Homo sapiens: one gene and its partners. The protein of the gene in region 6 purifies or fractionates together with the protein of the main gene of each other region. This does not show direct contact. Each region holds a gene or a part of one and is shown on either strand. Other genes may lie near its edges.

Region 1 (4,103 bases), on a different chromosome or scaffold from region 6:
CCAAAACAAGCAGGATCAGAGCTATGGCCACATGTCGTGGCCAGCTGAAGGCCTTGCCTGGGAAAAGCAGCTGCTGCAGGGCCCGGCGGATCTGTGGCCAGAGTAGGGTGGGACAGAAGTCAGGACCCAAGTGCTGCCCCCCTTCCACGTGATCATCTGTCTTTAGCTCCACCCTCTGGCTGAGATCCCTGATTTCCCCTCCCTCTGACTATCTATGGCTCCACCCTGCCTAACCCAACATCTGTGTCTCTATGTTCTGAACAGGCTTCCTGCCTCCATCCTCTGACAATCCACGTCTCTTCCTTCTGTCTGAACACCCATCGGCACCTGCACCCACTGTCTGAAATCCTTGCCTCCTCCTCTAGCTGACCATCTTTGCCTTCTCCTTCTGTCTGACCATCCACCGATCCTTCCACCCTGTGTGAGCTCCCTGCCTCTCTCCATCTGACCTCTACCTCCCTCCTCTGTCTAATTAGTTCTGCCTCCCCATCTGGGAGACTTGACCCTCCTACATCCCATCACTTCAGCCTCCACCCTTTTTCTGTCCATCCCTGTTTCTTAATTCTACCCTCCAACTGACCCTTCCTGCCTCCCTCTTCTTTCTAGCCATCCATCTGTGCCTCCTCCCTCCAACTGACTACCCTGTCCCCTGACCCTCTCTCTCCTGCTATCTATGTCCTCCCCACTTCTGTTTATCGATTTTTGCCATCTCTGTCCATCTGAAAACGCTGCCCTTTCCTGTCTGTCCATCCTTGCCTCCTTCATCCATCCATCCACTCCTGTTTCCAGCCTTGACCCACACATCCATGCCTATGCCCTCTACCCATCCATCCATGTCCCTCTCAGCCGTGGGCCCCACGCACAGGGAACAGCACGACTGGCACAGTGAGGGTCACCGCGAGCAGCACGGCCAGGCGCACACAGAGGATGAGCGGGTCCTTCTGGCTGTACATGTGCAGCATCTCCGCCTTCACACTGCCTGGGCCATGAGACAGAGGGTACGGGATGCAGGATGTGGAGAGAGCACCAGGACCAATGCCCCAGAAACCCATACATACATGCACAGTGACAAAATCCACACAAGTGAGGCACACCTTCTGTTTGGAAACTGACAGGTCCGTGGTCACAGAAGGAAAGAGCTCAGAGGCTCCTGCCCCAGGCCTTCCCCCTCCCCCCAGCCCTAGCCCCAGCCCCACTCACTGTAGAAGGTGAGGTATCCAAAGGTTGCTGTGAGCCCATACATGCAGAACATGGCCCCAATGGACACGTTGGCCACGGCCTGCATCCTGCGCTTGGAGGGCCTGAGGTGTAGAGGTCGTGGAACTGTCATGCCCAGACCCTGAGACTTGCCCCAGGTCCCTCAAAGCCAGCCTCCACCCTCCAGAGTCCCCTTCTCCCAGACTGCCATTCAGCTGGCACACATGGGGACACCCGTCTCTGCCTCCCCTGTGACTAGCCAAAATCCCCTCTCTGACCATCCATATCTCCCCCGATATGACTGTCTCCCTCTCCCCTGCGTTTGACTGCCACTGCCTCTTCCATCTGACCATCCATGCTGTCCCTCTGTCTGATCATCCACACATCTCCCATCATATCATCCCTGCCTCCGCCTCTGTCTGTCCGTACCTCCCTATCCCCATATCACCAGCCATGCATATCACCCCCTCCATCTGATCATCTGATCTCTGCTTCCCAACTCTGTCCATCCACATTTGTGCTGGATATTAAAATAGGAGAATACTTAAGCCCCAATCAGCAAACAGTCACTACCCTGAGTGCCCCAAGACCTCCTGGCCACCCCAAACCCCTCCCATGACACAACCTAGCTTCCACCAAGTGACAGTCCCAGGACTGCTGTAGGGAGTGTCAGACATTCTGGTTACCACCCCACTTGCTGGCCCATCATTCAGGCCCACTTGCCTGCCCACTCACCGGCAGAGCTCCGTATAGATGGGCAGCACCTCAGGGTGGCAGACAAAAGCAAAAGCCATAATGGGCACTGTGTAGGACATCTAGGGGAATGCCCGAGTACATGGGATTAGAGCCAACAGGGGTCCATCCCCTTCTTCCCATCCCCCTCCCGCCCCGTAATCGCCCTCCATATCAGACACATAGAAGCTCCCAATGTCGAATATCCAGCTCCACTCTGAGCAGGATGCACCATATGACAGAACCAGAGGGCCTGAGTGTGATGCAATCTCCTACATGCCTGCACACACACCTGTGAGTCAACTGTGAACATCTGGGCCTCACAGCTGCTGTTGAGTCCTTGGCTGGGGAGTCCCACGAGAGCTTCACTCTCCATTGCTGTTTCATTGTGGCCTATAGCACAGCCAAGTTGGAACTTCTTGTAGATGACCTGAGGATGGGGGCAGCAGGGAAGCCAGGTCATGGAGGAAGCTATGTCCCAATGTCCCAAACTCTCTCCCCGCTTCTCTGTGACTCACCGAAACAAGGAAAAACAGCATGCAGGTCAGAGAGAGACCACTGGTGTACCCCAGGTAGCCTAAGAGGGGCAAAACACAGAGTCTCAGAAATCAGCCAGGCGTGGTGGCTCACACCTATAATCCTAGCGCTTTGGGAGGCCTAAGCGGGTGGATCACCTGAGGTCAGGAGTTCGAGACCAGCCTGGCCAACATGGCAAAGCCCCATCTCTACTAAAAATACAAAAATTAGCTGGGTGTGGTGGCGCATACACCTGTAATCCCAGCTACTCGGGAGGCTGAGGCAGGAGAATCGCTTGAACCGGGAGGCAGAGGTTGCAGTGAGCCAAGACCACGCCATTGCACCACTCCAGCCTGGGTGACAGAGTGAGACTCGGTCTCAAAAAAACAAAACAAAACAAAAAAATCAATGGACCCCCGGAACAGTGAACTCCAAACACCTAGTCTAGCCTTCAAGGTCTACCCACCCCAGTTACCTTTGCATAAGCTTCTACTTCCACCCAGAAAAACCTCCCCTCCATAGCAAACTCCTACTAATCTGTTCAAGCCCACATCAAATAAGCTCTCTCCTAGTGTGCTGCAGCCCTTGAAAATGAATGGGGGTTTTCTCAGTCTGGCTTCTTCTGTCTAATCCCACTACCCAATGGCCAACCCAGGGAGCCTCTTACCCAAGTGTTTCATGAGGGCGAGGGGCAGGATGATTAACACACTGACGATGATGATGAGGAGGTTTCCCTTCAAGAACCAGTCCCTAGAGAGACAGGAAGACACAGTGCCTAGCTGCCAGCCAAAGGAAACTGTCAGGCAGACACTCACAGAAGACAGCTGGACAGGCAGCTTTCTGCCCTAAGTCAGGAGAGTTAAGCTGACAACCTCAGCTTGAGAAGTCATTCAGGTGGTCACAGTGACAAACGGCACAATAGGGTTGACAAAAACAGTCAAGCTGATTATGAGATTGTCAGATACTATCAGTGGGACACAGCTAACACATACACAGCTGGACAAAACTTGCCATCAGACTTCGCAAGTGGTTGCACAACCAGAAGGTCAAACACCCCAAATCAGTCAGACTCAATGTAAAAATCAGTCCAGGCCAGGTGTGGTGGCTCACGCCTGTAATCCCAGCACTTTGGGAGGCTGAGGCGGGTGGATCACCTAAGGTCAGGAGTTTGAGACCAGCCTGGCCAACATGGTGAAACCCTGTCTCTACTAAAAATACAAAACAAATTAGCCAGGCGTGGTGGGGAGTGCCTGTAGTCCCAGCTACTCAGGAGGCTAAGGCAGGAGAATGGCATGAACCCGGGAGGTGGAGCTTGCAGTGAGCCGAGATCACGCCACTGCACTCCAGCCTGGGCGACAAAGGGAGACTCTGTCTCAAAAAAATAAATAAATAAATAAATAGCCAGGTATGGTGGCGCGTGCCTGTAATCCCAGCTACTCGCGAGGCTGAGGCAGGAGAATCACTTGAACCCAGGAGGCAGAGGTTGCAGTGAGCCAAGATCGCGCCATTGCACTCCAGCCTGGGTGACAGATCAAGACACTCAAAAAAAAAAAAAAAAAGGAAGAAAGAAAGAAAAAAAAGAAGGAAGGGAGGAAAGAAAGAGAAAGGAAGAAAGAAAGAGAGAGAAAGAAAGAAAGAAAGAAAGAAAGAAAGAAAGA
Region 2 (4,103 bases), on a different chromosome or scaffold from region 6:
AAAAAAATTTAAGTCTATTAATTCTCAATAAGCTGTTTCTCTTTAATGAATTTTAAAAACCAGTTTATTAATAGACTAACTCAAGGCTTTAGGATATAGTTCCTCCACATTTACCAGAGAGATCTATAGAGAAGGGGCAGAATCAACTCTGATTAACAGGATCATTTTTGCTGTGACACAGTCAAAGACTAGAGCTGATCTGGGAATACCAACATGGCATAGACATTTGCTACCCACTCTGCTGTAAAAAAGAAACATGTCCATAATGACAGACACCATATTCGAAAAAGTGGTTACTCCTGGAGAAGGGAGAGTGGGATCAACAATGGATATACAAAGGGCTTCAAATGTGTCTGTAAATAAATGTGTCTGTATGGGGCAGGGGAGGGGGAGATGGAGAGGAGAAAGGAATTAAAACTATATGGCAAAATGGATGATGGGTATAACAAAGTTCATCAGATCACTTGTACTTTGTATTTCCATGATAATAGACAAAGTCTATGCCTAGACCTACATTAGATGCAAGTAAACATCAACAAAAGTAAATTTACAGACGTTAGGTTCAGCCACCACAAAGGTAGTACAAACTTACATGAAGTAAAGCTATAAAACAGAAACACAGAATCAAGAAACAGCAGCACAGATTTAGGGACATCAAACAAGGGCAATGCAGTGAAAAACAATCATACAGGTTATTTTGATTGCCATATATTTCCCTCTCATTCAAATATTATGAAAGAAAAGATGTTAGCAGACAACATAATCATAAGATATCTTTTTTAGAATAAAGACTAGAAAAATCCCCAGAACATCCTTAATGGAAAAGGCAAACACAGAGAGCATTTACTGTGAAAATGACAGAACAAAGAAACTGAACCTTCATACACAAAAAATGACGGACTGTAAAGTGTTTATTACACATGTTCAGAAGGTAGTCTTTACATATGAGACCTATATACACACGTCTGTATGCATGTGTGTATGTGGCATTATATGTCAATATATATTTACATGCCAATATTGGATTAGTTTTATTGAAAACTTATTGCATGATACTAAATGCAGTATGTTCATCTTAGTTGTGTTTTTTTTTTTTTTTTTAGAATATCTACTATAGCAATTTAAACTAATCACTGGGGAAAGATTCACATGTTTATTCTACAAAAACCCGTTGAACAACCTCATGTCAGGCATTAGGAAAATTCTGGTATGCTACCAGTGAAACAAGATATAATCCCTTTTATCAAGGAACATACTAGCTCTGGTGAAAAGAGGATAAACAACAAAAACACAAGGAAGGCAGACAACAGTTTTTATGTAATTAGTATCAGCTGTACAGACCTTTATAACAAATGCCTCAGGTTTCTAGAGCACTTGGGAGTAAATGGAACTAAGAAGGTAGACAAATCAATCAAAAAAGGAAGGAAGACAAACTATGACATTACCAAATTACTGCATTGATAATCCTTCCAAATAGTCAAAAAAAATTAATTTATGGCAAAAAACCAATTTGAATATTCATGAATTTAATGTAAAAGAACATTTTAAATCTATCAAATCTTACCAAGTATACATTTAGAAAAAAACTGAAAGAAGCAAAAACAAGTTGAATCTATGGACAAGAGATTTGGGGAAATAGCCACAAGCAGGGAAAATTTGAAGGAGAAAGAAAAATAGGCAAGCAAAAGGGAAAGAATAGAAGTAAAGAAAAAAGGAGAAGGGTACCACTTCCAAATTTCACATTTGTATCCCAGAAACTCTGAGTTAAACCCTGTATTACAGGAAAATATTTCAGATGGTTAGATTCAAAATGTTTATCCCTTGCAAGCAAGCCAGCCATTTCAATATCCAACATAAAGGCCCAGCATCCAGTATGTTAGTGTTATTTTGAAAAAACACAGCAACCTCTATGTAGTCAGGTCTTTGGACTTCATCTGCCTTTATCTAGTCTCACCCCTTCTGCTTTTATTTTTCTGAGATTGCTTGAAGAGACTTTTCTTTTATTTTCCTGTCAATATTCTCTGCACTATTATCCTAGAACTCTGTCTCAAAGATTTAACAATGATAATAGATAAAATGTTCTTTGTACTAACATGTATATATAGACAGTTCAATTCTAATAATCACATACTTCTGGGAAAATAACAATGAATTCCTAAGAAAGTGTCAGAGTTACAAATAGTTCAAACACATCTGGAGAAAAATCAGTTACTATAATGACAAAATTCAAAATCTTCACAAAAGGTAAGGATATTACTTGGCATGACTAAGCTTTATCTCTGAAACAGATGATATTAAAGTTCAACTATTCCACAAAATTGAATTCATCTATTTTATCAATATTCTGTAATGACACATGGCTCTTTAGTAGAAAATAAGCATTTACTGATATTAAATCCTGATTATTCCTATACTACAGGCACAAACTATTTCCTGTATTAAAAATACCACCAGTATTTCTAAGCCCTTGAAAGGCTACTAAAAAGAAAAAGTAACAAAAGGCATGAGGTAATTTTTTTAAGTTCCATCATAGTTGGCTAAATATAAAAATCAACCTTATACTATAAAATTATACAACTAAAATTTTAAAAATCAGTTTAATGGAAGGAATCTCTGTTCTTACCATTTGGTCCATGTAAGAGGCAAAGCACCAAAAGGCATCCACTTCATTTTCCATCACATATAAAAGAGGGGAAAGTAAATCACTCATTCCTTGAACATATCCTAAAAAGAAAAGAAAAAATCATCTCTGAAAACCCAAGTTTTATGTAACCTTCTGCAAGTTGTGCATATCACCACCATTTCGCTTAAAATTGTATCTTTCTCCTTTGCATTTAGAAATTGGTAGACACTGATGTTCACCAAGAAAAGAATATAAATGAAGAGGAGGAACTCTAGTCATAAGTAAGAAAGATGAGTTGTTTTAGATTGAGATGTCAAACAATATATAGCTTCCAGTACGTGTCTCAGTGCAGATACACTATCAAGAGTGGGTAATATTTTTAAAAATAATGTGCAAGAGCATCATGAGAAAGAAGAGGGGTGAAGAGATAATCCAGAGGAACATCAAATGTAAGAGTATACACTCAAAGACAGGTTTAAGAAAGACCAGTCAGAGAAGTAAAGAAAAAAATCAAGCGAGAATAATGTTGCAAAAATTAACAAGAAAGTTGCAAGCCCAGAGTGGTTAGCAATGCCAAACTACCATGAGTAAGCCACATAAAACAAGAACTTTGGGTTCAACTGCTTTAACAATCAGACCTTTAGATTCACATAACAGGAGTTACAAAATTAAGAGCCTCTTTTAAATAGTCATATCTACGTCCTTCTTTCTTTTTTTGTTACTCTCTACACCCAACCAATGCCAGCAACTGGGCTTAACCCAATCAATATTTTGTACCTAAAGTGACCACTTACCTACATGTCTCTTGATATTATTACAATTTCTCAATGGTGACAGTAATAGAGCCCTTGATTAAAAGAAAAACTAGAAAATTAAGGAGTCAGATCCCTCACTTAAAAATAAGAAAAAGTGTTAGTTTTACTTTTTCACCTGAACATGTCAAACTTCTTTTTTACTTCCTCTTATAAAACCCTCAATTATCCTTGTTTTACAATTTTCAAGACTTGAAAAATTTTCAGACTTAAGAGGTTCTTGAACCAATGAAGGGACACGAACTTATACTAAGCCTTTTTACTTAAACGTTATCATTCAACTTCGGTAACTTTTGTGTATTTATTAAAATCATGTAGAAATTTCTTTATTGGTAGCTTGGGAAGTCTGGAAAATAGTCTTTCATTTGCGAATCCAAAGTTTACATTTTTATTCACCAAAATCTATCTGCACTGAAGCCATGTAAAAGTAAATATTTAATGAAAGAGGGAGGAGATAGTTCTGCTATCATATAAATGATACATAATTACACATTACTCTGTTTTGGAGGAAAACTTTAAAAAATGATCTCAGAAAGCAGGTAAACTAAATCTCTTGAGAAAACTCAGATCAAACACACAACAGACAGAAGCACTCAGATCACCTCAGAATCTCCTTACAAATAAAGTTTCAGCTCAATTTGCTGTGAGCCTCTGTCCAATCATCTTAC
Region 3 (4,103 bases), on a different chromosome or scaffold from region 6:
GGCGCGTTCCATCACTCCTGGCTAATTTTTGTATTTTCAATACAGACAGGGTTTTACCATGTTGGCCAGGCTGGTCTCAAACTCCTGACTTCAAGTGATCTGCCCTCCTCAGCCTCCCAAAGTGAAGAGTGTTCTTTGTAGGACAGGATTGAGCCGAGAGTCAGAAGAGCTGGACACGCGGGAATGGATCCTGGTGGATCCTGGAAGTTGGGAGTTGTTTAGCCCTGCATGCCAGACCTTCTAGAAGGCTCTCTGTCACTATGTTTGCTACTCGTTCATTCAGCTAGCAGCTATTGAGTGCCTACTGAGTGCTAGGCACCAGGATAAAGCAGTGAACAAGGACCTGCTCTAAGGTACACTAACGGGACCGGATGATGTAACAGACAGAGTGGGTGGAGAGGCTGGGCACGGTGGCCCACGCTTGTAATCCCAGCACTTTGGGAGGCCAAGGTGGGCAGATCACGAGGTCAAGAGATCGAGACCATCCTGGCCAACATGGCAAAACCCCATCTTTACTAAAAATACAAAAATTAGTTGGGCGTGGTGGTAGGCACCTGTAGTCCCAGCTACTCAGAAAGCTGAGGCAGAAGAATCGGTTGAACCTGGGAGGCAGAGGTTGCAGTGAGCCGAGATCATGCCACTGCATTCCATCCTGGTGACAGAGCGAGACTCCGTCTCAAAAAAAAAAAAAAAGAGTGAGTGGAGAGCTCTCTGCTGGGGAAGTCCAGGCAGTGGCCCTGGGAGCACAGCACAGGAGCCTCCCAAGGTGGAGGTGGGTTGGAGAAAGCACTCCTTGTGGAGGCAGGAGGTCACTGGGAGGAGAAGGCATCAGTGGAGTGTGCCAGCCAGGAGTAACCATACTGGAAGAGCCTGAAGTAAGAGGGAATGGGGGCTGGGCACAGTGGCTCACACCTGTAATCCCAGTACTTTGGGAGGCCAAGGTGGATGGATGACGTGGATCAGGCGTTCAAGACTAGCCTGGCTAACATGGCGAAATCCTGTCTCTACTAAAAGTACAAAAAAATTGGCCGGGCGTGGTGGCACATCCCTGTAATCCCAGCTACTGGGGAGTCTGAGGCAGGAGAATCGCTTGAACCCGGGAAGCAGAGGTTGCAGTGAGCCACGATTGTGCCACTACACTCCAGCCTGGGCGACAGAGCGAGACTTTGTCTCAAAAAAACTATTTTTTAAAAAGAGGGAATGGGGGAGCCTTATAGAGGATCAGGGCTTCAAACCCTGGTGCGTCAGTGGCAGCTGAACAGATCTGTGGAGTTAGGACCAGCCCCGGGCTGTGGCCCTGAGCAGAGGCTCTTAATGGGGGTGACGGTATGGGGATGGGGCTACCCACAAATAAGCCCTGCCCCTGGCGCTCTGATAACCACCTGCCCCCAGCCACCCACCAGAGCGTCACTGGCACAGCAAACACCACTTTCAAAGTGTTAGGTGGTATCCCTTTGCTGAGGGAGGAGAGGGGCTCTTCCCTGGGCATCTGTGGCATGTGGCCCAGCTCTAGTCTGGCCTGTGAGCCCTTCTTGATGACCTCTTCCTGCAGGTATACTTGTCACTCATCCCCATCATCAGCGGTGTCCTGCTGGCCACCGTCACCGAGTTGTCTTTTGACATGTGGGGACTCGTCAGCGCCCTCGCCGCCACGCTGTGCTTCTCGCTTCAGAACATTTTCTCCAAAAAGGTATTTGGTCACCATCAGCGGACATGCATGGGGTTTCAGGGGTGTGCGGGCAGCAAACTGGTGGCATTGGGAAAACAGGCGGAGTAGAAATTTCTTTGCTATTAGAGCAGAAAAATCTTGATTGCCATTCTGCTGATTTTCTGTTTGTCATTTTGCTTTTTAAATAGTTTGTTTTTCTGGCCGGGCGCAGTGGCTCATGCCTATAATCCCAGCACTTTGGGAGGCCAAGGCGGGCGGTTCACTTGAGGCCAGGAGTTCAACACCAGCCTGACCAATATGGCAAAACCCCATCTCTACTAAAAACATAAAAATTAGCCAGGCACGCATCTGTAATCCCAGCTACTCCAGACACTGAGGCACAAGAATTGCTTGAACCCAGGAAGCGGGGCTTGCAGTGAGCTGAGATTTTGCATCACTGCACTCCAACCTGGGCAAGAGTGAGTCTCCATCTCAAAAACAAAAAAAAGTTTTTCTATTATAAAGTTAATGTGCTCAATAAGAAAAAAATAAAGAAAAGCTCTTTTATTGAGACCAAGGCTCACTGTCGCCCAGGCTGGAGTGCAGTGGCACAATCATAGCTTACTGCAGCCTCAGTCTTCGAAGCTCAAGTGATCCTCACACCTCAGCCTCATAAAGCACTGGGATTACAGGCATTAGCCACCAGGCCTAGCTAAAAACTTCAATTTAAAACAAGATTTTAAAACTTGTTGAAGCCTAGTGCAGTGGCTCACATCTATAATCCCAGCACTTTGGGAGGCCAAGGCAGGAGGATCACTTGAGGCTAGGAGTTCGAGACCAGCCTAGGCAATAGGAATAGAGTGAGACCCCGTCTCAAAAAAAAAAATTGCTCTTAACTCCTGTGATAATCACACACTTTTCAGGTACCACAGTTAATGCAGTCTCTCTATTGGAAATACCACTTATTTCCAACTTTTCATTGTAATGTAGAAACAATCACGTGTGTGATGTTTTCCTGTCTCAGTTATTTCATTATGATAGGCTTACAGTTCTCAGGTTAGAGGGTATGAAACGTTAATCACTCTTAATATGGTTTGTCTGGTCGTATTTTAGAAAGGTTATACCAATTCAGCCTCAAACCAGTGGAATTTCAGAGTGCCTACTTCACTTCATCCTCACCAGCACTGAGTGTTACTGTTTTATTTTTGTTTTCTTTTCTCAGTCGTTTATGCGTGGAGCATGGTGCTTGTTTCAGGCCTGTGCTGTGTATGTCCTCACAAATGCACTTGCAGGTTTGGTGTCCAAGCTCAGATGTCAGGGTTAATGTCCAGTCACTGTGTTTGGGGCCTGAGTCACTGGAGCCCTTTTTGCCACATATAGTTTTAATCACCCTCTAAAGAGGCTTTCCCTTTCCAGGTCTTGCGAGATTCACGGATCCACCATCTCCGGCTGCTCAACATCCTGGGCTGCCACGCCGTCTTCTTTATGATCCCCACCTGGGTTCTGGTGGACCTCTCGGCTTTCCTGGTCAGCAGCGACTTGGTGAGTTGTACAGCACCAAGAACACGCCATTTTCTTGGCTAGTTCCAGAATAGGTGCTTTGTTGAGGAGCTGTAGCTGCATGTTAACATTGTGGTATCTTTTGGGCACCTGACAGCCAGCGCTTTCAGCAGTCAGTCCTCTGTAATGCCTCACGGTGACGATGCACGCCATCGAGGAAGTGGGTTTCCTGTGTATTTCCTTCTCTGGTGTGCTTGATCCCAGGTGCTGATAGCTGCTGTGTGTGCGCCAGTAGCGTCAAGGAAGAGAAGGTGACTCTTTCACCTCCTGACAGTATAGTCCAGATAGCACATTGACTTTTTATTTTTACTCATTTTTTATTTTAAATGTTTATTTTTTAGAGACAGAACCTCGCTCTGTTGCCAGGGCTGGAGTGCAGTGGCACAATCATGGCTCACTGCAGCCTTGACCTCAATCCGGGGCTCAAGCGATCCTCCCACAGCCTCCCGAGTAACTGGGACTGCAGGCGAATACCACCATGCCTGGCTAATTTTTTTTTGTTTGATTTTTGTTTTTTTACTGTTTTTGGAGAGACAGGGTCTCACTATGTTGCCCAGGCTGGTCCTGAACTCCTGGCGTTAAGAGATCTGCCTTGGCCTCCCAAAGTGCTGGGATTACAGATGTGAGCCACTGTGCCTTGCCAGCCCTGGAACTTTGAAAACTATGCACTGGCCAAAAAAAAAAAAAAAAAAAAAAAAAGCCGGGCGCAGTGGCTCACGCCTGTAATCCCAGCACTCTGGGAGGCCAAGGCGGGCGGATCACGAGGTCAGGAGTTTGAGACCAGCCTGGCCAATATGGTGACACCCTGTTTCTCCCAAAAATACAAAAATTAGCCAGGCATGGTGGCTCGCACCTGTAGTCCCAGCTACTTGGGAGGCTGAGGCAGAAGAATTGC
Region 4 (4,692 bases), on a different chromosome or scaffold from region 6:
TGTCCCCCAAATTTTGTTTTATTCACTGCTGTATCCCCAATACTGATAACAGTGCCTGGCAGGTACTGTTAGGTACTAATAGGTGCTCAATATAATAATCTGGTAAACATAAAGTGTTTTTTTGAGTTCTGTGAGCCATTCTAGCAAATTATGGAACTCAAGATGGGGGGTTATGAAAACCCCAATTTATTTGTTGAGAGGGAGTCTCTCTCCATGGTCCAGGTGCAGTGGGGCAGTCTTGACTCACTGCAACTTTCGCCTCCCAGGTTCAAGCGATTCTCTTGCCTCAGCCTCCCAAATAGCTGGGATTACAGGTGTGCACCACCACGCCCAGCTATTTTTCCTATTTTTAGTAGAGGTGGGGTTTTGCCATGCTGGCCAGGCTGGTCTTAAAGTCCTGACCTCAGGCGATTCACCTGCCTTGGCCTTCCAAAATGCTGGGATTACAGGCATGAGCCACCACGCCCGGCCTGGAAACCCTAATTTATAGCTGGTTGGTCAGAAGCATAGGTCACAACCTGAGACTTGTGATTGATGTCTGAAGTTGGGGCCATCTTGTGGGACTGAACTCTTTATAGGATCTGACCAAATAACTCTTCCTCGAAACACAAAGTTAGGGCTTTTGCATCCACTGTTCCCCAGATGGGAAGATGAGTCCCCTGATCTTTGTACGGCTAGTTCTTTCTCATCATTCAGGTCCCAAGCTTCAAAAACCACTTCCTCAGCAAGGCCCTCCCTGAAGTTGTGTCCCCAGGCTCCATTATATCACCCTGTTTTTCATCAATGTTATTACCTATCATTACCTATTATTTTTGTTGTTTAATTGGTATGTCGTTTGTCCTATTCTATTTCAATGAGTACAGGGATCTTGTCTGTACCATCCATGCCTAAAACAGTGCCTGGTGCGTATTAGGTATTCAACATATATTCATTGAATGAATGAATGAATGAATGAATGAATGAATGAATGAAAGAAACCCAAGCCTGCTAGACCTCAAAAGCCCAGAGAACTGTTTTCTCTGGCTGGTTCTTCATTCAGACGATATTTTCTCCTCTTGACATTTTATAGTCTTCCGGCCTCCATGCGCAAGGAACCATGTAAAGGTTCTGAGCCTTGAAACCAGACAATGTATTTCCCTGTTACTTTTCGCTTGAATCTTCTCTGTATTTAGCAACCAGTCATAGAACACTAACCATGTACCAAGCGCTATGCTAAGTGCTGAACACATAGAGCTGAATAAAGCACAGAACTACCCTTGGTACAATTATTGAGGTTTTAATAATACATAATTTGACTACATTTCTTAGATTTCGCGTCGTGACGTTTTCAGCCTCTCAAACTGCATCGCCTACGCACAGAAGCTTCCCGAATCTCAGACGAGACACAACAAAGCTGCGCGCTGCCCTCGCCCCGCCCGCGGGCGCGGCGGCGACAGGCCCTCGGCCCCGCCCACACCGCGGCGCCACGCCTCCAACCCGCCTCCAGCCGTGCCTCCCCAGGCCCTTGGCCCCGCCCACACCGCCTCGCCCCGCCCCAAGCCGCGCTGTGCTCCAGGGGCGGGGGCCCACGGCGGCCACTCACTGAGCCCCACGGGCCGCAGCGGCAGTGACGTAGGGTTGGCGCACGGATCCGTTGCGGCTGCAGCTCTGCAGTCGGGCCGTTCCTTCGCCGCCGCCAGGGGTAGCGGTGTAGCTGCGCAGCGTCGCGCGCGCTACCGCACCCAGGTTCGGCCCGTAGGCGTCTGGCAGCCCGGCGCCATCTTCATCGAGCGCCATGGCCGCAGCCTGCGGGCCGGGAGCGGCCGGGTACTGCTTGCTCCTCGGCTTGCATTTGTTTCTGCTGACCGCGGGCCCTGCCCTGGGCTGGAACGACCCTGGTGAGTGCTGCCAGGGCCCTCAGGCGCTTCGTTCGCCCTTTTCCGCCGCCGTCAGCCGGTGCAGGCTCCCCTGCGTTTCCGTGCGCCGTCTTCCCGGAGCCTGGGTGCCCGGATTCCCCATGTCTGACCTCTTTGCTGTTCGTGCTCTCCCTGGTTCCACTGCTCTTCCCAGGCGTCTTGGGAGGCGGGTAGGGACTGCTCGAGTGGGCGGGGCGGGACGGCTGGAGATCCTTAAGGTCCCCTTTCTCCCTGCCCCGGACTCCCGGAATTTGCCCATTGTCGTCTTTCTCATCTCTGAGTATAACTGGAGAGCTGGACACTCACCTGCGCATCTGCTTTGTTGTTATGGCTGTGTGATGTCATCGTGGCCTGCTGTTGTCATGGCTGCCTGTTGCTATCGCCGGCCGTTGCCTGCCACTGGCAGTCTCTGAGTCACCCTTAGCGGACAGGGCTGCAGACCTCGCAGGTCTGTTAGCAGAATCGCAGATTGCACTCTTTTTTTTTTTTTTGAGTCGGAGTCTCACATTGTCGCCCCGGCCGCACTGCAATGACGTGATCTCGGCTCACTGCAACCTCCGCCTCCTGGGTTCAAGAGATTCTCCTGCCTCGGCCTCACCGGTAGCTGAGATTACGGGTGCCCACCACCATGCCTGGCTATTTTTTTGTATTTTTAGTAGAGACGGGGTTTTACTATGTTGGCCAGGCTGGTCTCGACCTCCTGACCTCGTGATCCACCCGCCTTCATCCTCCCAAAGTGCTGGGATTACAGGCGTGAGCCACCGCGTCTTTATGAGAACCGCTGCCTCTTATCTGACGATTGCAGTGATGTACATCGCGCGGCACCAGCTCTTCCCATTGGCTTTCACCGTAGAGAAGAATTTAAAAAATAATTTTCTCGGTTTTTTTTAGTGATGGTACATGATAAGTGGGTTTTAGGAAAGAGGTTCTTTTATGTCAGTACAGTATTAAAATTGTCTAAAGAATTTTCATGGGATCAGTAATATTCCGTGCAATTAATACGTATATGTCTATATACTTAGATACAGATTTTGACTTTTTCCATGTAATAAATGACGCATGCTGTTACTTTGGAATTCTGTAAAAAAAAAAAAAAATGAAAACAACATCATTTTTGCTTTGCGAAGTAAAGATGGCATGGAAAGCATATTGCCTTTGTGATTTGGTGATTGGAAATGCCTGCATTGTCGAATTTAAGCAACAGGTTTATTTCTATAATAGCCTATTCTTACATGCTGAAATGAGAGAGAAGGTGCTATTTGCAAGCACATCACGTTGAGTAGTCATTTGATGTGGACATTTTATTACCAAAAATAAAAAGCCAAGTTGTATTTAAATGTCTGTACGTTTTTCTTTTGTATTTCTAGAAAGCTGTGTATGAGTGGGAGACTTGATCAGAATTACAAGTGAAAACCTAGAATGAAACTTTAATTTGTTGAACTTTGAATCAGTTCGTAAATAAATTTAATAAAGGAAGTTTACAGTTGAAGAGCCAGAAGAACTATAAAAACTATGAAAGAAGAACCAAATTTAAATTAAAGATGAACCACTTCCTGGTTTATCTACGCTGTAAAACTATTGTTCTGGAACACAAAGCACCACAATATTTTGCAGAGTAAACTCAATTGTTTTATGTAAATTCTACTTCAAAGTTTACTTTGAGGAACTTTTTTGTTTTGTTTTGTTTTTTTGAGACAGTTTCACTCTTGTCGCCCAGGCTAGAGTGCAATGGCGCGATCTTGGCTCACCGCAACCTCTGCCTCCTGGGTTCAAGCGATTTTCCTGCCTCAGCCTCCCGAGTAGCTGGGATTACAGGCATGTGCCACCATGCCCGGCAAATTTTGTATTTTTAGTAGAGACAGGGTTTCTCCATGTTGGTCAGGCTGGTCTTGAACTCCCAACCTCAGGTGATCCGCCCGCCTTGGCCTCCCAAAGTGCTGGGATTACAGGCGTGAGCCACCGCACCCGGCACTTTGAGGAACTTTTTAAATGAAGATACTTTATTGACATACTATTTATTAAGTCCTTTACTAAAGCATTAATCGGCTCCCTAATTTATCTTTTGTTTGACTTGGATGCCATTACTTTAGCTCACATTGAGCAGTAATTTGTCTGGAAAAAAAAATTAGCACCATTCTAAAGAGATTACCAATGAATTTTCAAAATTCCTTATTGAATGTAATCTTATATTAAGTTACTCTTCCGGGTGTTGGGAATATAGCAGTGAACAAAACAGTGTCTTGCCTCCAAGGACTTTACCTCTATTGGGGAGAAATAGACAATAAACAGATAAACATGTAAATAACATGCTATATTGTGAAAATTGGTATGCACCGTGTATGATAAACAGCGTAAGGAGGACATGGTGTGCGGGCAGAAGTGGAGACTTAAAAAACGTACATTGGTCAGGGAAGTCACTGTTAGGGTGACATTTGACTGGAAACCTGAAGTGGGGAGGAGGAGTAAATGACCTGAAATTACTTATATCTTTAAAGGCTCATTTGGGCTGCTCTGTGGAAAACAGACCGAAGAGGGTAGGAGGGAAGCAGGGAAACCAGTGAATTAATATATATTGCTATCTATTTTAATATTGTACAGTAAGTTCTTAGAGTGGTGACCGCTTGGCCCAGGGCAGGAGCAGTAGAGAGCTGGTTAGAGTAGCTGGATTCTCTTGTCACCTGTTTGGAAGGTGGAGCTAACATGATCTTCTGAAGGATCAGATGTAGGAGTGAGAGGAGAGAAGATGAGAAGTCCAAGGTTTTTGGCTTGAGCAACTAGAAGCATGGAGTTAACCATT
Region 5 (4,103 bases), on a different chromosome or scaffold from region 6:
CAGCTATTGTAATAGCAATAGCCTTTTAACTGATATGTCTCTAGTTGATTTTTTTTTTCCCTCTAACCCACCTTGTTCCCTGATGCAAGAATTATCTTTAATCACAGCTTTGATGATTCTACTACTTGAAGAAAAAAATACCTCATTTGCATTATCTGGCTTACTTCAATTTTAACTGCTCAGCCCAACATTTAAAAAGTCTCCACAACAAAATGCAAATATTACTGTGGGAACACTTGCTGTATGTTTACTGTCCACCAGGCTTCACACTAGACAGTTGGTATGCATTACTTCATTTAAGTGCCACAGAGTTGGTGGTCATCACCCGCTTTCTCAGATGAGAAAAATGGAAGTAAGGGAAAAATCTGCCCCATATCCAGAAGCTAGTTAGTTGCAGAGAAAGAGTCAATGCCTGATCAGTTTTGACTAAAAAAAATTCTCTCCTAAACCATCTATCTACTACCCAGCAAGCCAGGGTTGAAACAGATTTCTAACCTTTTCAATGAAATCAGGTAACTGAGTGTACTGTGGCAAGAAGAAAGCTGTATATGGCCTGTGTGCCACAAAAGCCCATCACTATTCAGCTGAACTATACAACCAGATATTCCCCTCCCCAGTATGACCTGCATATTCTCATCTCCTTTCCTCTGCTGTGGTTTCCCCACCTCGAAGTTCTCATTTCATACCAAAATCTATCTTAAATGCCACATCCCTACAGTGTGATCTCTCACCCAAAAACTTTGTACCAATTTATTATATGCTGCCTTCAGTTATTTATTTATATATTTGTCTCTTAAACTAATTGTAAAGTGTTCATTAATACTGGCTTATAATCCACATGTAAGCAAATTAAAAGTATATCTTAAACATTTACTTTAATATTTTAAATATTATAATTTCAAATGAGTTCCAATTTTCCCAACTTGCTCTTAACCAGTATTTTTTTTTAACCAGTTCTCTACTTCTTTAATGAAATTAAAGAAACTAAAATAATTTCACCACCTTTAATAACAAATAAACATCAGGGAAATTATATGTGAACATGTAATAACAAAATTAAAGCTACTGATCTGTAAAAGGACAGTAAGAAAAATTAGTATTCAAAATGACAGGAGATATTTAAATACGACACTGCAGCAGCATAAACATGATAAATCTCATTTTGATATAAATGGGGAATTTCCAAGATCCAGCTTTTATGCTTTGCTATTCTAAAAATTACTTCATAATTCTCTTATCACATTCAGAGTCCAGTAACCACAATGAGCGTTGAAGATCTAAACTTGAGGCCAGGTGCAGTGACTCACGTCTGTAATCCCAGCACTTTGGGAGGCCGACACAGGCAGATTACTTGAGGTCAGGAGTTCAAGACCAGCCTGGCCAACATGGTGAAACCCTGACTCTACTAAAAATACAAAAATTAGCCAGGCGTGGTGGCAGGTGCCTGTAATCCCAGTTACTTGGGAGGCTGAGGCAGGAGAATCCCTTGAACCCAGGGGCGGAGGGTGAAGTGAGCTGAGATCGCGCCACTGCACTCCAGCCTGGGTGATACAGGGAAACTCCACCTTAAACAAATAAAAAAAAAAAAAAAAAGAAAGAAAGAAAGACATAAACTTGATTTTCTTCCCAGGAGGCTTTTCAAGATTCTGCATATTAAATAACAAGTAAATCGACTTCTAAAAATAAACATCAAAGTATACTTCATTAAACATACCAGATTGAATGTAATGAGCTTATTTTCCCTATAACAAAATGCTAAGAAATAAGAGAAGCTAGAGTGTGAAAATGGCAGAATAGCAGGGGCAAATATCTGGATACCATAAAATATGCTAAAAAACTCTGAGGTCCTATCAAATGCCTGATGTTCACAAAAAGACAACAACAATAACAACACAGTAGATACTCCATAAAGCAACTATAGTCAGCAATTTATTCATCCAAGCATTTTACTCTTACTTTTTCAGAATTATCTCAGATGCACCCTTGCTGAATATTCGATAACTTCCATCTGAATTTTTCAGGACAGTACTCATGGACTTCCTAACAGAATTGAAGGTGTAGACTTTGTACAGTGCTTCTTCTGGTATTTCATTTCTAACATCCTGATAATCCCGTTTTAAATCCAAAAGAAGTCCCAACAAGGCACATTCAGTTTTATTACCAACGTGACGAGGTAATCCACCCTCTTTCTCTGGTGGCTATAAGAGAAAAACATTTAGTAGCTAGTATCTCGTTTCTCTAAGAACGTTTAATTTATAATGTAAAACAGACTGCGATATTCTAAAATAAAATTACAAAGCAATTGTCTAATATCAACATTTTAAAGAAGGATATAGAAAAGTAAGGTAGAAAGGAGCCTGGGGTGAGAATGACATGGATTCTAATCTCAGTCCTGCCAGTTACTAGCTACGTGAAATTTGACAATTACCCAACTGCTTTGGTCCTTGGCTTCAGCATCTGTAAAATAGGAGCACTTATGACCCCAAAATTAAGTGATATAAGATGTATGAAGTTTATAGTTGGTTCCTAATACAGAGTGGAACTTAATTTTAATTTCCTTTTCCTGTTTTCACTTAACTTTTATACTAAATCATTCAAAATTAAATCTACCAATTTTTATGGCTTAAAAGTACATTCATTAAAATACTGTTCTCTTAAATGCAGTGAGAAGCTTCAATTCCTTCATAGTGCCTTCAGAAATACCACTTTACATAATTATCACAATGGTATTAAGGGCAGATGTGATCATCTTTACTCAGTAATTAAAGAAGGTAGCTCAGACTTTCAGCTAGTAAAAGGCAAAGCTAGATCTAGAACCAAGATCCCATAACTTTCCAATGTAATCATCCAATTCATGTATGTTTTCCCTAATGAACAGCTTGCAATATTATTTTTGTTAATGATTTTCATCCATAAATCACTAGAAGAGATTAAGTCAAACATAACATCGCATTCTTTCTGTTATAAATAAGATTTTTAAAACTTGTAAGTTGAAAATTTTTTATTATATGGTGGCACAAGTCTAGAATTACTTTACTGCATTAGTTCTAAAAAGGTCTAAGGACCACCTTTTAGGTAGGAACTACTGAGAAACCAAACAGAACACATGGCAACCATATATAAAACATGTTATTTTAAGTTGAAATCGGCTTAAAAATTTTCTGTAAGTTGAGAGCTGACCTCCTATAGTAAGACAGTTTGATCTTTCTCAAAAATGAGCTTAACAAGAATTTAAAATTAAATACATGCTCTGGTTATAAGGCTGGAGAGTTTCTGAACACAGGAAATTCAAAATATAGGAGAAAAATGTAAGCAAACAATGTTTATGTTGATCAGCAGACCTCACTCATAACACAAATTTAAAAACCATTATATAAATAAATATATGCCTTTTAAAAACTTAACAGTTCAGTTTACATACAGTAATGGTGGTCTGAAGACTTACATATAGTCTGATCATTATAGATTTAAAAATTAATTTTCATAAATTATTTCAAAAACCTTACCAATATTTTTGATGTATAAGCACAATTCACAGAAATTCCTGTTACAAGATAGGACAAAATATTTGGTGGAATAGCTTCTGGTTCAGGAACCTTTTTATAATGTTTTTCATTTATGTAAGCTTGAACGACTGTCATTCTGTTCATTGTCAAAGTTCCTGTTTTATCTGAACAAATAGCTGTAGCATTTCCCATGGTTTCACAAGCATCCAGATGCCTTACTAAGTTATTATCTTTCATCATTTTCTACAGTGACCAAAAAAAAAAAACTAGTTAAGCTGCATATAAAACCAATCACCTCATTACATTAAAATGATTATAAATTGTTTTAAAATTAGAAAACTCCCAGCTTTCTATAAATACAATGTATAAAGTACCAATGTAATACTGAAATTTTTTTTTTTTTAGCATATTTGACCTATTAAAATAAGCTAAACACAGTACCAGAGCTTTCTGGGGTTTCAATCATTTTATTGCTGCATAACATAACCTAGTGAATCAATTCAGGTACCTACATCCGTACACAAATAATACTGAATATATGTCTCCAACGGTTTTTGCAAAATGTCCTCACATTGCAAGAGCAATGACAATCTGTAC
Region 6 (4,103 bases):
CCAGGCAGCCTGGGTCCTTATCTGGGTCTACCACAGACTGGCTGTGTGACCTTGAGCAGCTCATATACTCTCTCTGTATCTCAGTGTCCTCCTGGGGTTGTGATGGGGAGCAAATGAGTTACATTTGTAAAGTGCTTAGAACAGTGCTTGGCACAAAAGAAGAGTTAAATAAACATTTAATACTATTATTTTACTACTTTTTTTTCTTTTTCTGTTTTTCTTTTTTCTTTCCTTTTTTTTTTTAGACACGGTCTCTGTCTGTCGCCCAGGATGGAGTGCAGTGGCATGATCTTGGTTCACTGCAGCCTGGAACTCCCTGGGCTCAGGTGATCTTCGCACCTCAGCTTCCGGAGTAGCTGGGACTACAGACATGCACCAGCATGCCCAGCTAAATTTTGGTGGTGGGGGGTATCTTTTGTAGAGACGGGGTTTTGCTATGTTGCCCAAGCTGGTCTCGAACTCCTGGGCTGACGTGATTCTCCCACCACAGCCTCCCAAAGTGCTGGGATTACAGGTGTGAGCCACCATGCCTGGCTTTTTTTTTTTTTTCCCCTCGAGACAAGGTTTTGCTCTCTTGCCCAGGCTGGAGTGCAGTGGCATGATCATGGCTGACTGCAGCCTCCAACTCCTAGGCTCAAGGTATCTTCCCCACTTGGCCTTCAAAAGTGCTGAGATTACAGGGGTGAGCCACCCCACCCTGCCTACTACTACTTTTTTTTTTGAGATGGAGTCTCACTCTGTCGCCCAGGCTGGAGTGCAGTGGCATGATCTAAGGTCACTGCAACCTCTGCCTCCTGGGTTCAAGTGATTCTCCTGCCTCAGCCTCCCGAGTAGCTGGGACTACAGACGCATGCCACCACACCCAGCTAATTTTTGTATTTTTTTAGTAGAGACGGGGTTTCACTGTGTTGGCCAGGCTGGTCTCGAACTCCTGACCCTGTGATCTGCCCAGCTCGGCCTCCCAAAATGCTGGGATTACAGGTGTGAGCCACCGTGCCTGGCACCTACTACTACTTTTATGCTCACTTGTGGATATATTCTTGCCTTTCTCTCTGAAGTGGGTAGGGGTAGAGTAAGGATATTTGTATCTCTTTGTTACAGATTGGAAGACTGAGACTCAGGTTTCGTAGTAACAGAGCTCGCTTCCATCTTCCCCTCCTCCCCTCAGACCACATGGCCTTGCTTTGATCCAAAGCCCTAACTTAAATCTTGCCCAGTAACTCCACTGAAAAAGCTTATATCACTCCTGTAATCCCAGCACTTTGGGAGGCCGAGGTGGGCAGATCATGAGGTCAAGAGATCGAGACCATCCTGGCCAACATGGTGAAACCCTGTCTCTACTGAAAATACAAAAATTAGCTGGGCGTGGTGGCATGTGTCTGTAGTCCCAGCTACTCAGGAGGCTGAGGCAGGAGAATCCCTTGAACCCAGGAGGCAGAGGTTGCAGTGAGCCAAGATCGCGCCACTGCACTCCACTCTGGTGACAGAGCGAGACTCCGTCTCAAAAAAATACACAACAACCCCCCCAAAAAAAAGCTTATAAGTTATAGCTCTCCAACCCCCACCATGCACACACTCCTTAATGGTAAAATTAAAAAGTTAGCTAGAAGTAAAATGCTCCATCACTCTCTGGACACACCTCAACCAAAACCTCAATATCAGACTAGAGAAACTGGGATATAGCTGGTGCAGGCACCTCGTGGAGTGGAAGAACTGCCACCTCCCATCCCCAAGGTATTCTGCCTCAATGTCTTCCCTCTTCTCAGTTGCTCAGCCCAGTGCTGGCTTTGAGAGCAGCTGCCCTTGATGAAACTCAACCCAGCAACCCCACCCCCACAATTAAAAGCTTGGAGCAGCCCTGTCAACTGGCAGAGCTGCCAGCCCAGGCTCCACCCCTTACCTGTCCTGTCACTGTGCAAGTTGCTTCCCCTACTGGGTTCCTGCTTCCTCCCTGTAAAATGGGGATAGTGATCTGAGTGTGCCCTGCCTTCCTCCCATGCAGGTGGGAAGATTAATGCTGTTGTGGAGGGGAGAGTACTTTGTGACCCCAAGGAGGCGGACAGCAGAGGAGCATGGTGATTTCAGTTACTAACCATCTAGCTAGATCCTGTCCACCCTGCTGGGGCCACTTCATGTAGAAGCTTCCAAAATGCTCTACCTTTCTTTGGTGTGGAGAAGACAGGAGTTGATAGGAATGGTACTCTGGGGCTTGTTCTCATTTCATTCTGATCTGATGGAGCCTTGGAATTCAGAGAGAGAAACAGGCAAGGGGTGGGAATAGAGTGTTGAGATTGCTGGAGTACATTGGAGTTGAGAATTGAGAAAGGGGGACTAGTTAGAGTCCCCCCAACCCAAGATACCTATACCTACCTTTAACCTCCCATAGTGCCCCAGGGTTCTGTGCATCTTATGTTTACATACCCGGGCTCCCAGACACACCCATGTTCACACCCCCACTTCGAAGCCAACAACTCCCTTCATTTCCGTGGACTGCCATGCAGTCACCTAGCTCCTCCTGGACACAGGTCCACACATCAACACACATTTACATACCTGGACACACACATTTCCACAGCACCCACAGGTTCTCTGGCCTGAGAACATTTAATGAGCATTTATAAAGCTTCCATGGTCTGCCGAGTCCTGTTCTAGGAACATCAGAAAAGCACCGTGGTGCCCTGAAAATCATTCTAGCTTTAGAAAGAAGGTGAGCTAGGTTTGAGTCCTAGGTCCCTCATTTTATTAGCAGTGTGACCTTGGGAAAGTTACTTAACCTCTGAGGCCCTGTGCCCCCACCCTAAAATGTCAGTGACACTCAATTCAGGATCGTCGAGGATTAAATGAAATCATGTAATATATTATTCTTGAAACTGAGGGCACTGGACAAATGGTACCCAATACAATTACTAAATTAGTGTGTTTTTAAAGGCAGCTTGGACTGGAAAAGGAAGAGGCATAACACACCAGCACACACTCCTTTAGTCTTCCTAATCCAGGCTTTGCAGAGACTCCCTGGGACCAAGTGAAACACATAAACAACTCCATCCTCCCCTCCATCTGAGGGCTTCTGCCTCTTGCCCTGTGGTTGAAGTGTTAGGAAGAGGCAGGAGAAACCCTCTGAGTCCCCCTGGGGGCTAAGGGATGCTGCTCCCGAAGTTGCAGTCACTGTTTCTAGTTTTGTTGTTCTCTTTGGTTTTCCTTTTTCTTCCCTGAGGACCTCCTCCCCTGCTCCACAGCCCGCCCCCGAGGCAGAGCTTCAGTGTTGTCAGCAGAAGGGTCCCCCAGGGACCCCCCAGTAAAATGGGTGGGGCAGTGCTGCATCTGTTGAGGCCACACTTCTCCGCTATCCTGGGATCCTCCCCAGGGCCCCACTCTGCTCTGTCCCCAAGCACTTTGAGAACCCAGGCACTCAGGCTGGCTGTCCCTTTTCTCCTCCTGCCCACCCCATCCACTCTGAGCATCAATGCAGCCGGCCAGTTGCAGGCAACCAGGCAGCACCCTGGCTGCCCAGGCAGGCTAAGAGGCCCCCACCCACTCCCCCCTCCTTTGCCAGTGGAAAAGCTTGCCGTAGGGCATAGCTTTCCCAGCCTTCCCTGCTTCAGAGGCAGGAGCATGGCACTCTGGGAGTTGTAGTGCTCATAACACTCAGGCGATCCCTGTGCAAATAACTGGAGAGAGGACTATGGTATGGGGAAGAGAAATGAGAATAAGCAGGAGTGGCTGGGGCCAGGCAGGTAACTCAAACCCAGAAGTCCTACTATTTACTTGACTTCCTACTCTGACCCATCGTCGAACCTAAGCCAGTTATATTGAGTTCAAAACTCTAACCAAATGAAATCATGCCATTTTTTCTAATAGGCATAGAAAGAAAAGATCAGGATGAGGCAGCTGGCTCCTGACCCATTCTCCCCTGACGTGGAGACCCCTCATCTTACCCTTGAGTCCTCAGGCCTAAGACCCCTCCCTGTCTTCCCAGGCTCAGCTCCGCCCCCTGCCCTAAGACAGAGAGAATGAGAGTGTGGGGGTGGCGGCGGCAGGGGGGATTTAGATAGATGTTAGAAAATCACAGATACCTTCCAGCTTAATGAAACCAGCCTCCCCAG
Region 7 (4,103 bases), on a different chromosome or scaffold from region 6:
TTAGTAACATTGCACTATATTGCCCTGACATTAAAGACAAAAATTCAGAAATCATTTAATGGCTATTAATTACTAAGCACTAGACACTTCACATATGCAATGGCATGTACTCCTCAATCTGATTAAGTAGCTATTAGGTTATTCCTCTATTTCAGGTGAAAATAGAGGATCTTAGATTAAGACACTGTTCAGTGTCATATGAATAAGTGGCAGACCTGGAATTTGAATCTATAACTCTATTATTCACAAGTCTGTAAACTTAACACCTTATTATACAGTGGTGGTAAATTTGTGATTTAATTAACATTTCCTATTGGTAGCATGCTTTTATGTTCTTTTCCAGGTCTTCAAATATTTCCTATTGAGAATTCATAATTTGGCCAGGAGCAGCAGCTCACACCTACAATCCCAACGCTTTGGGAGGCCTAAGCAGGAGGATCCCTTGAGGCCAGGAATTCAAGACCAGCCTGGTCAACATAGTGAGACTATCTCTATAAAAATTTTAAAAATCAGCTAGGCATGGTGGCACACACCTGTAGTCCCAGCTATTCCAGAGGCTTGAGCCCAGGAGTTTGAGGCTGCAGTGAGCTATGATCATACCACTGCACTACAGTCTGAGGGACAGAGCGAGACCCTATCTCTTAAAAAAACAAACAAACACACAGACAGGCGTGGTGGCTCACGCCTGTAATCCCAGTACTTTAGGAGGCTAAGGGGGGCAGATCACAAAGTCAGGAAGGAGTTTGAGACCGGCCTGACCAACATGGTGAAACTGTCTCTACTAAAAATAAAAAAATTAGCTGGGCATGGTGGTGCACGCTTGTAATCCCAGCTCCTCAGGAGGCTGAGGCAGGAGAATCACTTGAACCCGGGAGGTGGAGGTTGCAGTGAGCCGAGATCGCGCCACTGCACTCCAGCCTGGATGACAGCGCAAGACTCCTTCTCAAACACACACTCATAATTCACCAGAACAGATCATTCAAGAATATTATGCTCCACTAGATCCAAATAGCTACACCTTCAGGCTCTGCCTCTTAAAACAAAAAGGCAGACTGCCAACTCTGTAAATGTTTATTTTTGTGTCCACAATCTAGGTAGTTTCAACACCTAAAAATATTGGTAGCAAGATACATAAAATAAAAAGCTTAGAAATAAGAAAACAAAATAAAAACAAAACTTTTAACATGCAAAGTTTTGTCACATTATACCAAGTGAATCCAAGAGACTATGGTAGAAGCTGAAATGAAACAATTTCTTATTTAATTAAAAATGTTCCCCATAGGCTGGGCACGGTGGCTCACGTCTGTAATCCCAGCACTCTGGGAGGCTGAGGCGGGAGGATCAGAAGATCAGGAGATCCAGACCATCCTGGCTAACACAGTGAAACTCCGTCTCTACTAAAAATACAAAAAAATTAGCCGGGGGTGGTGGCAGGTGCCACCACGTAGCCCCAGCTAATCGGGAGGCTGAGGCAGGAGAATGGCGTGAACCCAGGAGGCAGAGCTTGCAGTGAGTGGAGATCACGCCACTGCAGTCCAGCCTGGGTGACAGAGCGACACTCCGTCTCAAAAAAAAAAAAAAAAAAAAAAAAATTCCTCATAAACCCATGATTAAATAGAAGGTATATGCATGCAAATAGTTAATCTTGGCCAAATCCACATTAATGCTTGATTTGTCTTAAAATGTTAAAAATCTCCCTTATCTGCAACTCTCAAACATAATTTGGCTTTCTCCTATAATATAAATAAATATTCTTTTATTCCTTTTTACCACTCCATTATGCAGAAGATTATAAATATTCTTTAAGAAATATGACCTGGAGGCCGGGAGCGGTGGCTCATGCCTGTAATTCCAGAACTCTGGGAGGCCGAGGCGGGCAGATCACCAGATCAGGAGATAGAGACCATCCTGGCTAACAGTCTTTACTAAAAATACATAAAATTAGCCAGGCGTGGTGGCGGGCACCTGTAGTCTCAGCTAGGCAGAGCTTGCAGGGAGCCGAGATTGCACCACTGCACTCCAGCTGGGATGACAGACTGAGACTCCGTTTCAAAAAAAAAAAGGAAAAAAGAAATAAGACCTGGTATTGGCCGGGTGAGGTGGCTCACTCCTGTAATTCCAGCACTTTGGGAGGCCGAGGCAGGTGGATCACGAGGTCAGGAGTTCGAGACCAGCCTGACCAACATGGTGAAACCTTGTCTCTACTAAAAATACAAAAATTAACCAGGAGTAGTGGTGTGTGCCTGTAAGTAATACCAGCTACTCAGGAGGCTGAGGTAGGAGAATTGCTTGAATTTGGGAGGCAGAGGTTGCAGTGAGCCGAGATCATGCCACTGCACTCCAGCCTGGGTGACAGAGTGAGACTCCATCTCTCACACACACAGAAGGAAGGAAGGAAGGAAGGAAGGAAGGAAGGAAGGGAAAAATATGGTTGGCCGGGCGCGGTGGCTCATGCCTGTAATCCCAGCACTTTGGGAGGCTCAGGCGGGTGGATCAACTGAGGTCAGGAGTTTGAGACCAGCCTGGCCAAGATGGTGAAACCCCGTCTCCACTAAAAATACAAAAATTAGCCGGGCGCAGTGGTGGGCACCTGTAATCCCAGCTACTTGGGAGGCTGAGGCAGGAGAATCGCTTGAACCCGGGAGGCAGAGGTTGCAGTGAGCTGACATCACGCCACTGCACTCTAGGCTGCGTGACAGAGCAAGACTCCATCTCAAAAAAAGAAAAAGAAAAAAAGAAAGAAAGAAAAAAAAAGAAATATGACCTGGTATTATTTTTATATGGGGCTAAAAATGACCAAAACGTAAAATATAGTACATATAAGAGGAATTGACATGAATAATTTTACACATAAATTATTATAAATTTCTTTTCCTGTAAACTTAAAATTATTTTTTCCTATGGCTGATAAAAACATCGAACAGACTCCTAATTATAACTCACTTGTACTTAACGTACTTTAAAACAGAAAATGACGCTGACTACCAATATTTTTCTTCAAGTTGTTGGCATGGCTATTAAGCTCAGTCAAGGGTAAACACCTCTTGAGTTTTAAATACTCCAGGTAGAAGACATTTAAACCTGTAATTATGAAGTAAGTTTTCTTTATATGGATGAAATAATTAAATGAAACGTAAAGAGCTTAATTACCATGCCAATAGACCTACTAGGTACTCTAAAAAACATGACTTCTGGGCTGGGTGCCGTCGCTCATCCTTGCATTCCCAGCACTTTGGAAAGCCCAGGGGGACAGATCACCTGAGGTCAGGTGTTCCAGACCAGCCTGGCCAACATGGCGAAACCCCTTCTCTACTAAAAATACAAAAATTAGCCGGGTATAGTAGTATACGCCTGTAATCCCAGCTACTCGGGAGGTCGAGGCAGGAGAATCATTTGAACCCAGGAGGCAGAGATGAAATCGGGCCATTGCACTCCAACCTGGGCAATGGAGACTCCGTCTCAGAACAAAACAAACAAAACAAAATAACAACAACAAAAATTACTTCATTTTGGCTGGGCGCGGTGGCTCACGCCTGTAATCCCAGCACTTTGAGAAGCCGAGACGGGAGGATCACGAGGTCAGGAGATCGAGGCCATCCTGGCTAACACGGTGAAACCCCATCTCTACTAAAAATACAAAAAATTAGCTGGGGGGTGGTGGCGGGCGCCTGTAGTCCCAGCTACTCGGGAGGCGGAGGCAGGAAAATGGCATGAACCCACGAGGCAGAGCTTGCAGTGAGCCAAGATCGCGCCACCGCACCCCAGACTGGGCGACAGAGCAAGACTCGTCTCAAAAAAAAAAAACCCTTCATTTTACTCAAAACTTATTTACATGATGCTAACCAACTTCAATTAACATATGAGTTGGACAGACAAGTAAATAAACACAATTCATTTTTAAATCCCCAAAGTTTTAAACCCAGTAGTTAAGAACACTTGGTAGGAACTCAAAATTGCTGGATAATCTTAATTAAAAAATTTTTACATTTAGGTCTTCTTACCCCCCAAAAGAACACAAGGTAGATGGGGACATAAACTCTCTTTTACCAAGTGGCTGATAGGAAAACATTAAAACTGAGATGGTTGTTTCTGTGTAAAAGAAA

The links.
Region 1: the proteins of TMEM63B (region 6) and SLC38A5 purify together in Homo sapiens (affinity purification with mass spectrometry; one large-scale study listed by BioGRID and IntAct). This does not show direct contact.
Region 2: the proteins of TMEM63B (region 6) and TBC1D15 purify together in Homo sapiens (co-immunoprecipitation; one large-scale study listed by IntAct). This does not show direct contact.
Region 3: the proteins of TMEM63B (region 6) and SLC35E1 purify together in Homo sapiens (affinity purification with mass spectrometry; one large-scale study listed by BioGRID and IntAct). This does not show direct contact.
Region 4: the proteins of TMEM63B (region 6) and SARAF purify together in Homo sapiens (affinity purification with mass spectrometry; one large-scale study listed by BioGRID and IntAct). This does not show direct contact.
Region 5: the proteins of TMEM63B (region 6) and ATP2B1 purify together in Homo sapiens (affinity purification with mass spectrometry; one large-scale study listed by BioGRID and IntAct). This does not show direct contact.
Region 7: the proteins of TMEM63B (region 6) and TMPO purify together in Homo sapiens (affinity purification with mass spectrometry; one large-scale study listed by BioGRID and IntAct). This does not show direct contact.

Annotation. Positions count from the first base shown.
Region 1 is NC_000023.11:48,459,786-48,463,888, forward strand, and holds part of SLC38A5 (sodium-coupled neutral amino acid transporter 5), read right to left. Parts: intron 3,196-4,103; coding exon 3,113-3,195; intron 2,507-3,112; coding exon 2,448-2,506; intron 2,360-2,447; coding exon 2,222-2,359; intron 2,013-2,221; coding exon 1,933-2,012; intron 1,302-1,932; coding exon 1,201-1,301; intron 980-1,200; coding exon 864-979; intron 92-863; coding exon 1-91. UniProt on the Homo sapiens protein: Symporter that cotransports neutral amino acids and sodium ions, coupled to an H(+) antiporter activity. Releases L-glutamine and glycine from astroglial cells and may participate in the glutamate/GABA-L-glutamine cycle and the NMDA receptors activation.
Region 2 is NC_000012.12:71,912,447-71,916,549, reverse strand, and holds part of TBC1D15 (TBC1 domain family member 15), read right to left. Parts: intron 3,471-4,103; exon of another isoform or gene 3,418-3,470; intron 2,725-3,417; coding exon 2,624-2,724; intron 1-2,623. UniProt on the Homo sapiens protein: Acts as a GTPase activating protein for RAB7A. Does not act on RAB4, RAB5 or RAB6.
Region 3 is NC_000019.10:16,565,619-16,569,721, reverse strand, and holds part of SLC35E1 (solute carrier family 35 member E1), read left to right. Parts: intron 1-1,552; coding exon 1,553-1,690; intron 1,691-3,064; coding exon 3,065-3,190; intron 3,191-4,103. UniProt on the Homo sapiens protein: Putative transporter.
Region 4 is NC_000008.11:30,080,032-30,084,723, reverse strand, and holds the start of SARAF (store-operated calcium entry-associated regulatory factor isoform 1 precursor), read left to right. Parts: upstream 1-1,659; 5' UTR 1,660-1,774; coding exon 1,775-1,877; intron 1,878-4,692. UniProt on the Homo sapiens protein: Negative regulator of store-operated Ca(2+) entry (SOCE) involved in protecting cells from Ca(2+) overfilling.
Region 5 is NC_000012.12:89,618,043-89,622,145, forward strand, and holds part of ATP2B1 (plasma membrane calcium-transporting ATPase 1), read right to left. Parts: intron 3,750-4,103; coding exon 3,507-3,749; intron 2,199-3,506; coding exon 1,957-2,198; intron 1-1,956. UniProt on the Homo sapiens protein: Catalyzes the hydrolysis of ATP coupled with the transport of calcium from the cytoplasm to the extracellular space thereby maintaining intracellular calcium homeostasis.
Region 6 is NC_000006.12:44,130,215-44,134,317, forward strand, and holds part of TMEM63B (mechanosensitive cation channel TMEM63B), read left to right. Parts: intron 1-2,002; exon of another isoform or gene 2,003-2,072; coding exon of another isoform or gene 2,073-2,075; intron 2,076-4,103. UniProt on the Homo sapiens protein: Mechanosensitive cation channel with low conductance and high activation threshold. Osmosensitive cation channel preferentially activated by hypotonic stress.
Region 7 is NC_000012.12:98,518,590-98,522,692, reverse strand, and holds part of TMPO (thymopoietin), read right to left. Parts: intron 1-4,103. UniProt on the Homo sapiens protein: May help direct the assembly of the nuclear lamina and thereby help maintain the structural organization of the nuclear envelope. Possible receptor for attachment of lamin filaments to the inner nuclear membrane.